3 linked regions of the Homo sapiens genome follow. The protein of the gene in region 1 purifies or fractionates together with the protein of each later gene. This does not show direct contact. Each region holds a gene or a part of one and is shown in the gene's direction. Other genes may lie near its edges. The genes, in order: FAH, PGM1 and KANSL3.

Evidence for each region.
Region 2: the proteins of FAH (region 1) and PGM1 fractionate together in Homo sapiens (co-fractionation; one large-scale study listed by BioGRID). This does not show direct contact.
Region 3: the proteins of FAH (region 1) and KANSL3 purify together in Homo sapiens (co-immunoprecipitation; one large-scale study listed by IntAct). This does not show direct contact.

The regions. Positions count from the first base shown.
Region 1 is NC_000015.10:80,173,422-80,177,070, forward strand, and holds part of FAH (fumarylacetoacetase), read left to right. Parts: intron 1-1,594; coding exon 1,595-1,670; intron 1,671-3,649.
Region 2 is NC_000001.11:63,645,285-63,648,933, forward strand, and holds part of PGM1 (phosphoglucomutase-1), read left to right. Parts: intron 1-3,232; coding exon 3,233-3,368; intron 3,369-3,649. UniProt on the Homo sapiens protein: Catalyzes the reversible isomerization of alpha-D-glucose 1-phosphate to alpha-D-glucose 6-phosphate. The mechanism proceeds via the intermediate compound alpha-D-glucose 1,6-bisphosphate.
Region 3 is NC_000002.12:96,603,701-96,607,349, reverse strand, and holds part of KANSL3 (KAT8 regulatory NSL complex subunit 3), read left to right. Parts: intron 1-302; coding exon of another isoform or gene 303-380; intron 381-1,812; coding exon of another isoform or gene 1,813-1,838; coding exon 1,839-2,030; intron 2,031-2,486; coding exon 2,487-2,571; intron 2,572-2,969; coding exon 2,970-3,100; intron 3,101-3,649. UniProt on the Homo sapiens protein: Non-catalytic component of the NSL histone acetyltransferase complex, a multiprotein complex that mediates histone H4 acetylation at 'Lys-5'- and 'Lys-8' (H4K5ac and H4K8ac) at transcription start sites and promotes transcription initiation.

The DNA.
Region 1 (3,649 bases):
CCAGTTGGCAGGAGGAGTCCCTGCAGGTACCAACATTGCACAACCTCCCAGGTGGCCATCAAATCTTGTTCTGTGCAAATGGCGCCACCTGGACCCCAACTCATAGAATGCAGCTTGGAGCCCAGCAACAGGGAGTCCCTGCAGCCTCTGGTTCCCGGCACCGCTTGGTCTACCACTGGGTCTAGGCCTTGACCCCTGGTTCCAGTCCTCCCTTCTCAGCCTGTTGCAATCTGCCCCACTCCATCACTGGCAACACCTGGCCAGAGTCACCTGTGACCCGATAGTCAGTGTCATGACCTTGTGTCCCCTTCAGCATGGACTTCCTGTGGCCCCTCACTCTTGTTGGCATTCCCTCACCCCTTGGTTTCTGGCATGTGACCTGTCCTCGTTCTCCAGTGTCTCTGAGTCCTCACGATGCCCCTCTCCAATTCTGACCTCCCTGTGGGGATCCAGGCTGAGCTCCCAGCCATTTGCACATCCTCGCTTGAGCATCTCACCACGCATTTGCTGGGGGCCTCTACCAACACCCGGTGCTGGTCCTGCACCCACACTGCTCTCCCATGCTCCTCTGCCTCTGGGGTCATCTCATGTTTGCTGTGCTACAAACAACCCTGAGGTCTTTCCTTGCAAGCCAGTTCTAGTGAAGTCCTGTGGGGCTTTCACCCTCATCCCTTGCTCTCTCCTCGCTGCTCCCTACCACAGCACCCCCTGCCCACCCTGGTCATTTTCAGTCGCCAGGACTTGACTTTCTCTCTAGCTGGCAGCGGCCTTGTCTAGTCTCCCTAGGGCTGCAAGGCCACAGCCTCTCTTTGCTTGTCCTCCAGTCATCTGCCTTCTTCCGGGTCGGTCATCACAGGGTTTTGCCTGCCTTCCTCTGTGCCAGCCCTTCCCCAACACCATTTAGGTACAACACTACTATTCCCCCTCTGAACTATTATTTACTTAATGTTTTCCTTCAGAGTGGCTCCCAGTTTAAACTTAATATATTAAGAAGGGAACTTTATATTCCTACTGGCATCACTAGCTACACTGTTTCATAACCATTAGTATCACCAAAAACGATCTCATGTCCCGTGGGTGACTCATGTACCATGCTTTGGAAAACACTGCTTTTGGCCGGAGTGCAGGCGTTCTGGCCCAGCCATCCAAGCTGCCTCCCTAGCTGGCTCCAGCACCAGCCAGGGCTGTCTACTTCTGTTGTGACCCCTCTGCCTTCCAGGGGCCCTGCAATGCGCTTTCAGGCCCAGCCTTTCCTCACAGGCCAGGCTTTGTTCTCCATCTCGGCCTGTCTGCTGCCCACCTTCCCTTTCTCTCCCCTCCTGTGGCTTTCAGGAACATCTCTGGTTTGGCTCCTGTGACCTTTGACCTGCTGATGCCCCTTCCTTGGCTGCATTTCCTAGAGACCCACAGTATGATCCCCCCTACTGCTATCCAGGGACACAGTGCTGGGTCCCTGGAGAGGGAATGCTCCTGCTGTCTCAGACCCTCTGCCTAGGGGAGCAGGTGCTGCTGGGGGCCTGGCTGGTATGGGGGCCCAGCCGGGTGAGCTCAGCCCACCTGCCAGTGACCTCTGTGCTGTGCTTTGCCCTCTCAGGACCCCAGGCCCCTGCCGTATCTGTGCCATGACGAGCCCTACACATTTGACATCAACCTCTCTGTTAACCTGAAAGGTATGTTGTAGGGGGACTGACATGGCCAGGAGCTCTGAGGCAATGTGTGCCTGTGTGCCTTGTCCTGAAGGCTCCTGAGCTTTGGCAAGGGTGAGGGCACGTGCTACAGCCCTGGAGATGTGTGTGGCTCGTCTAAAGGAAAGAGGAGGGGAGGGGAGGGGACACCCTGGTGCTCACTGGGAACCTAACTGGGCCCATAGGGCATTAACCCTGTCACTGAGCTCTCAGTGGTAGGGCTGAAAGGATGGAGTCCGGGACTTCCATCTTCTGCTTGAATCCCCTCCCCAGCCTCTCCAGGGGCTGCCTGGCTCCTGCTCACATATCGCCACTGACCCTCACTTCCGTGGTGGGTGGCACATTTCATTGAGTGCCTGTTTGAAAGCATGTCCTTGTGGGTCTGTTCGCTTGGCTGAGCCCCTGGGGCCACACAGAGCCAGCGCATCAAGACCCCAGATTCCCACCATGGGCCAGCCCTGAGTGTCTTGCAGACAGACCCGAGATCCCCACCCTGGGCCAGCCCTGACATAGACAGGGCCCACATCTCCCTGTGGCTGCTCAGCCCGCCTCCGCGAACAGGCCCAATGGGGCGTTGGTAATAAAGAGACTGGCTCTGCAGGCCATGACTCTGCTGCTCAGCTGTGGGACTTTGGGCAAGTTGCCAAACCTGGCCATGTCCTCATTTGTCATCTATGAAATGGGATAATAGCGGCGTTGACCTCATGGTGTGTTGTGAGGACCAAACATGTCAATTCATGCAAAGGTCTGGGACAGGGTCTGTACCTAGAAAGAGTCAGGTGTCATTTTCCAATCCCAACGGGGGCCCTCGGATGGGGAGGGTTTGCCTGGTGGCCACACACAGACCTCCTAGCCACACTCTGGCCAAATCTCCTTTTTAGCTCCATTCCATTCCTTTTTCTTTTCTTTTCTTCTTTTTTTTTCCCCCGAGATGGAGTTTCACTCTTCTTGCCCAGGCTGGAGTGCAATGGTGCGATCTTGGCTCACCACAACCTCTGCCCCTGGGTTCAAGCGAGTCTTCTGCCTCAGCCTCCTGTGTAGCTGGGATTACAGGCATGCGCCACCATGCCTGGCTAATTTTGTATTTTTAGTAGAGATGGGGTTTCTTCATGTTGGTCAGGATGGTCTTGAACTCCTAACCTTAGGTGGTCTACCCACCTAGGCCTTCCAAAGTGCTGGGATTACAGGCGTGAGCCACCATGCCCGGCCAGCTCCATTTCTTTCTTCTGTCTGCTCTGTCTGTACACTCCAGGCTTTGCCATGTCTGTCTCACTGTCAGTTCCAGGGTCTCGGCCCTTCATGAGGTGGTTCCTGTCAGGAGGCGCAGTACACTGCAGGAGCTGTCGCCATGGGAGCAGGATGCTCCATGGAGAAAGAGCTGTCACAGAGAGCCTCCTGGCTGCCCAGGGCCCTCTGGGAAGCTGTGCTGGGCCCGCTCTTTCAGGTTCCAGGTCAGGAAGCTGAGGCTCAGAGAGGAAAAGGATTCACCCCGAGCCACCTACCTGGCTAATGGCAGGGCTGGGACTCAATCCAAGTGTGTCACAAGTTCTAGGTTGGCCTCCTGCCACCCACAATGCGTGCTTGGAGTATACTTTCTATCTGGTTTTGTCCTCAGTATTCCTGGCTGCCTAGAGGTGAACCTGCCCGCCCGGGGGAGGCCACTGGTAGAAAAGGGACAAGATTATCCAGAAAGCACAGTGTCCAGAGATGTAGTCCTGCATTTGCAGTTCTGATGTTCTGAGTTGGGATCTGGGCGAAAGGGTCTGGGGAGGAGCAGCCTTGGCAGACCCAGACCTCGCATGGCTGAAGAGCACACCTGTTCTGTGCCACCTCAGAGGGGAAGTTAGGACCAAGGGAGGAAGCCAGGTTTTGAGGGAGCAGAGGAGCTTTCTACTTATTAGTGCTGTTCAGAAGTGGAACGGCAACAGCCCGGTACCTTGCATGTAGTAGATGTTTAGTAAATA
Region 2 (3,649 bases), on another chromosome or scaffold:
TCCACATAAAAGAAAAAATCAAATTCCTTGCTTAGGGCAGGAAAAGCCACAAGGAACACTGCCTTCTATGCTTTCAGTCTAGCCAAAAGAGAAAAAAGAAAAAAAAATTAAGGAGAAAAAGAAGGAAGAAAAAAACCCAGTGGGGCACAGACAAATAATTCCAAGCTGTATATGCTGTCATGAATTCCCAATATATTAGGGAAGCTGCCAGAATCTTGCTTCTCAGGATGAACTGTTGCCAAAACATATCATTTGCAAAAGCCGTAAGAGCCAGAGAGCTTTTTGCTCCTTAAAATAGCAGTAAGGGCAAATAAAAGTCTAAAGATAGTAAAATTAGGTAAACATTTTTAAAATATGTTATATAAAGCACTAAAAATATTGCCTACTCTCTAGTTTTGCCTGCATCCGGGTTTTGAGGACTGTTAACTTCTAAAAGTAGTATCCTATTGAAGAGAAAAGTCTTTTGAAAGAAAAAGTCATGTTTTTTTAAGAACCAAAAATAGAAAGAGAAAGTGTTGGAGTAAATTGATTGGTTGATTCATTCACACAGTCTTTCATAATTAGTTATTTACCGTATTCCTTGTGCTATGCTAGTCACCAGACTTAATTACAAGGATAAATAAGAGATGCCCGTAAGAAGCACACAGTTAGTGGGGAGAAAGGCTCACAAACAGATGGTTGAGACTCGAGGAGGCTGATGCCACCCCAGATGTTTTGTGCAGGTTGCTACAGGAGAAGAAAGAGAAGGGAGTTCATGACTGCCTAGGGAAGTTGGGAGCTAGTCTTAAAAAAGAGAGGACATTTGAGCTGGGTCTGAAAAGATGAAGAGAGGAAGGAAAAACACCACGTGCCTCCTGCATACCCAGCATGGTGCTAGATACTCTAACAATTCCAAGAAGAATAAGACCAGCGGGAAGTGCAGTAGGGCAGGCACATAAAGAATTCAACATAGGATAATGTGAGAGCATGATTATAGAGCAATTGTGTACAGTTCTATTCAGAAATCAGAAAATAAGGCTCCATGTAGACTGCTTTCTTTCAGAATAAAGAGTTTAAAGGCAAAAAAATGAGAGTTGTGTTCCATATCAGGCTCTTGGAAAAGGGTGTCCATGCATATAAGCACATCCTCCCGAGAAGCCCATTTTAAAATTTTGTTAAAGATTTTAGCAAGGACCTTAGCAGGAGACAGATGTCTCCTTTAAGAGACATCATTAAGGTTTGTTTAACCAAACCTTAATGGTTAAAGAACAGTGTCTTGGAGTTGCTGGATCCATGAGTAGGTCCAATTTGAAGGCTTTGATCCTTTTTTGCCAAATTGATGTCCAGAAGGATTGTGCCAGCGTCCACTCCCACCAGCTCTTTGGTGGAATCCCGTTTCCCTTTTATTCTCCTGGCACTGGCTGTTCGGATTTTTACACTTGTGGATTTTTACACCTTTTGTCAAGCAAGTAGCAGTTTCTCATTGTGGTTTTAACTTTAATTTTTCTTCTTAAAAATAACACCAGCTTTTTATTATACTAATTGGTTGGGTGTATGTGTCTATGTGTATTGTTTGGCAAATCGCCTATTGATATCCTTGGCCTGTTTTTCTATTGAAATTCTTTTTTCTTATTCATACATAAGAATTTTTTCTATATTGAATGTATTAAACATCTGCCTTAAAATATATCAAATGTGGCCGGGCATGGTGGCTCACGCCTGTAATCCTAGCACTTTGGGAGGCCGAGGCGGATGGATCACCTGAGGTCAGGAGTTCGAGACCAGCCTGGCCAACATGGCGAAACCCTGTCTCTACTAAAACTACAAAAATTAGCTGAGCATGGTGGCGGGCACCTATAATCCCAGCTACTCGGGAGGCTGAGACAGGAGAATCGCTTGAGCCTGGGGGGCAGAGGTTGCAGTGAGCCAAGATCATGCCACTTTACTCCAGCCTGGGCGAAAGAGCGAAACTCCGTCTCAAAAAATAAAATTTTACATATATATATATATATATATATATATATATATATATATATATATATATAGTATTAAACATCTACCTTAAGTGCTATCCACTTTTAAACAACCAGATCTCTTTAATTTTTTAAAGTTTGTCAATGGGCTTTTAATTTTGTCCATAGTAGTTTTACACTATAGAAATGCTGATTTTTAAGTAGATAAATACATCAGTGTTTTCTTTTATGAATACCGAATTTACATTATTTATCACCCCTAAGATTTATATATATAAATATATAAAAAGACATGTATATTAATATAATATATACTAGTATTTAAAAGCTTTCAGGTTTTACATTCGAATTTTTAGTTCAACTGGAATTATTTTTGTTATGGTGTTTTATAGGGAAGAAAACAATTTTTTAAAGCTATTTATCCAGTTATCCAAACGCCATTTAAAAAGTAATCTACTCTTTTCCCACAGCCTTGCAGTGAGACCTTTGTCATACTCAAGCCTCTTGTGTGCTTGGATCTCTTTCCAGATGCACTCTTGTTCTATTAAGCTACCAGACTATTTGAATTATTGAAATTTTGTAATGGTCATGTTCTTCTGCTGTTTGTTCATTTAAGATCTATTGTGTTTTCTCTTCACATTAATACTTTATAACTGATATATCAAATTCCACCTAATTATCTCACTGACATTTTTATTGACTTATGCCTTACATTTCTAAATCACTTTGGGAAGCATCAATTTCTTTTCAGTATCATGTTGCCTACTTAATATGTGATTCCTCCTGTATACCCAAGTCCTCAGTCAGGCAGTGTGACTCTTTTATTTGGGTCTGCACACCTACTGTTGAGTACTGTATTAGTCTGTTCTCACACTGCTATAAAGAACTACCTGAGACTGGGTAATTTATGAAGAAAAGAGGTTTAATTGACTCACAGTTCTGCAGGCTGTACAGGAACCATGGCTGGGAGGCCTCAGGAAATGTACAATCATGGCAGAACAATGAAGAGGCAGCCGGCACCTTCTTCACATGGCTGCAGGAGAGAGAGAGTGAAGGGGGAAGTGCTATATACTTTTAAACAACCAGATCTCATGAGAACTCACTTACTATCACCAGAACAGCAAGGGGGAACTTTGTCCCCCATGATCCAATCACTTCCCATCACGTCCCTCCCTCAACATGAGATTTGGGTGGGGATGCAGAGCCAAACCATATCAAGTACCTTCTCAGGTACTGGGAGAAAGCACGTTTCTTACAGCAGCTTGCTGTCCCCCCTCCAGGTTCTGACCACATCCGTGAGAAAGATGGACTGTGGGCTGTCCTTGCCTGGCTCTCCATCCTAGCCACCCGCAAGCAGAGTGTGGAGGACATTCTCAAAGATCATTGGCAAAAGTATGGCCGGAATTTCTTCACCAGGTGAGCCACAGCCCAGCTGGGGTACAAGGTAAGGTGGGGAAGTGGGCAGAGAGAATTCTTGCGCATCCACAGCCTCTCCTGTCTTAAGTGCTAATAAAACCCTAGGTCATCCAGCCTCTCTCAATTGGAGACTTTAAAAATAATCTGGTCAGGGATGAAATGAAGTCAATTTTTATGTCAGCCATAAAGAGTGAGGCTTTAAAAGTTTAGCTAACATAATCAAAAGAATAAATGCTTTATAAGCATTTTAAATGTGTCCATTGGGTGGACATGATCATAAC
Region 3 (3,649 bases), on another chromosome or scaffold:
GATGGGCAAACGGGGAATACTAATAGCGAACATATATGGAGTCCTTGCTGTGTGCCATGCCTTCTTCATGGCACTCGCATTGCTGTAGTTTGTTGAGTTTTGGCATGGCCCCATGAGGCAGATAGTACTATTCAGTTTTAGATGCTTCTACAGACTGACTCCGTGGCAGAGTCAGGTTGCCATGCAGTAATTTCAGAAGGAGCCCCTATTGGCCATTTTCTACAACCTTTTTTCTTATTCCCTCTCTTTTTCTCCCTTCTCTGGCTGGCTGTGATTCTGTAATTCTTTCTGATTCATTCCAGCACAGTTTGCTGCTTTTCTGAAACAAAATATGCTGGTGAGGAAAGCTCTTCCTCCTGGCACCTCCTCCTGTCTCTTTGGTGAGTATTACTCTTTCTTGCCTGCTCGTCCACTACATTCTGCTCCTCAACCCCTTATTTATTTTCCATCTCTGCCTCTCATCTGCCTCAGTTTGGTTTCCTCCTGTTCTTTTCTCTCTCTTTCTTTGTATTCTTTTGTTTTGCTGACCCCTTTTGCTTACTCTGTAGTCTTTGCCCTTTTTCCATTCTTTTGTTTGCTTCTCATGGTGTTTTCTTTTTTGTCTCTTAGTGTGGTTCTTTCTTTCACTACGGTCTTGGCTCTGCTGCTTTTTTGTATGTCTGTGGCATTGCCTGAGTCTCAGTTTCCTTGTGTGTTTTTCTCCCTGCCTCCTGTCCTGTGTTTATCTGGTGGCTACAAGCCTACCAGCCACATATCAGCATAGAACCTGAAACTCCTTTCCCCTACACCCTCCTTCCTACTCTGATTTTAGCCAGTGCATTTGTCCCCTAAGCAATCCTTCTAGCTGGTTATGTCCTGACTGTTGCCTCATGCCAGGACCCCTCCTCCCTCCTCATGTGACTGCTACCTTCCTCCCCACACCAGTCTTTGCTTCCCTGTGCTACAAGAGGACTAGGGTGGACTTCTGGGTTTAAAGAGGAGGGAATCTTTGAGGAAGCTTGAAAGATAACCTAAGAGTCCAAAAAGCTTGGCTGTATACATGATGAGCCTGTTTGATTCAGTGGAAGTGGAAGCCCATGTGTGAACAGATGGCCTTTGTCTGTACTAGTACACATGACCTGGGGACTAGGTTGTGACATGGGCCAGTGTTGCCCTGTTACTTTTGGGTGGGAGCCGTGAGGTTGCCTGGTTGAGGTACTCTCTCTCCTAGTAGCTACTCATAGCCAGCTTTTAGTCCTGGTGACACTCCTCTTCATTGCCTCCATTTGGCAAGTGGATCCTCAACTGTGGGCTCTTAGGGCAGGGTGGGACTCTTGAGAGCCTTTGGAAAACTCTACTTTTTAGAGAGGACTGGATGACCTGCTCCTCCATGAGTTCTCATAGAATGTTTGATGTCTCCAACTGTGTGATGATGTGGGGAGGGCTTCAGACAGGAAGATGATCACATTTTTTGAGTCTGAGAAGGACTGTTTACTCATTCTGTTGAATCCTCTATTTTTGTTGTTGTTGCCATTGGCCTTGGCTAGGCAGGGTCAGGATGTCTTCTGTCTTTTAATTCCTACCAACTCAGGGCCCCTTCTCTTCCGATTCCAGTGCAGGATGAGGGATGAGAAGGGTGCCATCCTCTAAGAAGGGCAAAGTGGGGTCCCCCACGGACAGGGCCTGAGTGAAGTGGTCCTGAAGCATGGGCAGTCTCCTTTGAGGGGTGGCCCTGTACGTAGAGTGGTTATCCTGTGTGTTCTACATTCTACACATGGCTGTGTTGGTGCTGGTATTGACTGAGTGTCTGTTGGGATTTTTTGGATTGTGGAGGATCTCAACTCAGCTCCATGTCTTAGTTCCCATTTCATCAGAACCACCAGAGGAAGGAGAGAAAGAGGATCTTAGGGTTCAGCTGAAGCGACACCATCCCTCGAGTCCCCTTCCTGGCAGTAAGACCTCCAAACGACCGAAGATCAAGGTGTCCCTTATCTCCCAAGGGGACACAGCTGGAGGGCCTTGTGCTCCTTCCCAAGGAAGTGCTCCAGAAGGTGAGTTTCTCTTGGTACGTTAAATGAGAACTGAGCTCTCTCAGGTACACAGCATTGCCCTTTGGTGGCCATTCACCAGCATGTCAGCCTTTGCTTTATTTTGAGAGATGCCCGGAGCAAAGAAGACATGAGTCTGTACATGTGGGTAAAGTTGGCATGAGTCCATCTGAATGAGGACCAGGCAGGCAGAATATGAGAGGAAGCTGTGCCATCGTTCAAAGCATCCTATATTTTGTTCTTTTTTTGTTGGCTTCAATTAAAGGTACAGAATATTTCAGGAAGTTTAGAAAATAGAAGGAAAAAATAACCCCAACTCTCCCTACTCTAGCATAGTTCATCTTTTTTCATTTTCCAGTTTTCGTCCGTAATATCTTGCATTTAGCCTAAGCTGTGGAACCTGGAAACATAGAGGCCAAATAGGACTGACCAGGGGCCTTGGGGTTTTCTGTTTTGAAGCTGCAGGTGGGAAGCCCATCACCATGACACTGGGGCAGGCTTCAGCAGGGGCCAAGGAGCTCACAGGACTTCTCACCACAGCCAAGTGAGTGTTTATTGGACCATCTGTGTCTATTCCTTTTTTCCCTTCCCTCTGTTTCTGGTTTATTTAGTGCTTTGGAAAATGATGGATTCTGGATTCTTGTCAGTTTTGGAAATGTGACTTACTTCTGATTGGGATCTTTGTCTTGCTTTTGAGTCAACCCAGAGTTCACTTTTACTTAAGACTCCAAATCGTCCCCTGGCTTTTGCTATAAGTCCTGTAAGTAAGGACTTTTAGAAGACTAGAGGCCAGGTACAGAAAGTGGGACAAAGAAGCTGAAGGTTTTTGGTGTATGTCTGCTGCTGAAAGCCTTGCTGGGCCCCACTCTGTACCCTGCCAGTGTTGCTAGGGCTTGCTGTCCTGTGACCTTTGGATAACAGAGCTCCTTCCTTTGTCTCCAGGTCCAGTTCTTCTGAAGGTGGAGTCTCAGCCAGCCCAGTCCCTTCAGTGGTCTCCAGCAGCACTGCACCCAGTGCCTTGCACACACTGCAGAGCCGCCTGGTGGCCACATCTCCTGGCAGCTCCCTCCCAGGTATCTTGTGGCCCAGCATTCTCCCCTTCCAACACAGAATTTTTGGTCTGCTGCTTCTGGGTGGTCCTGGGAAAGCATCCCTGGAGCTAAATCCATAGGATGGGCCTCTGGGTCTTAGAGTGATCATAGAGGCTTGACGTGAAGCTGGAATTAGCTTGGGCAGAGGGATTCCTTGGCCTTGAATAAATGCAGTGAGTAAATGTCCTGGTCTGCAAGTGAGTAAATGTTCCAGTCTACAGGTGCTGTATCCTCTACTGTAAGGAGAAATAGCCGATAGGACATATATGTATAGTCAGCCTTTCTTATCCACAGGAGATTGGTTCTAGGACCCTCACCACTACCAAAATCCATGGATGCTCAAGTCCCTTATATGAAATTATGTCATACCGTTGGAATTCTATATCCACAGGTTTCTATCCGTGGTTGTTTGAATCTGCAAATCTGCTGTGAAGCTCACAGATAATTGAGAGCTGACTGTGGTTTTACTTTGCTGTTTTAAGCACATCTGCCTGAATAAAACTGGAAATGGTGCTACACTGGGCATTAGCA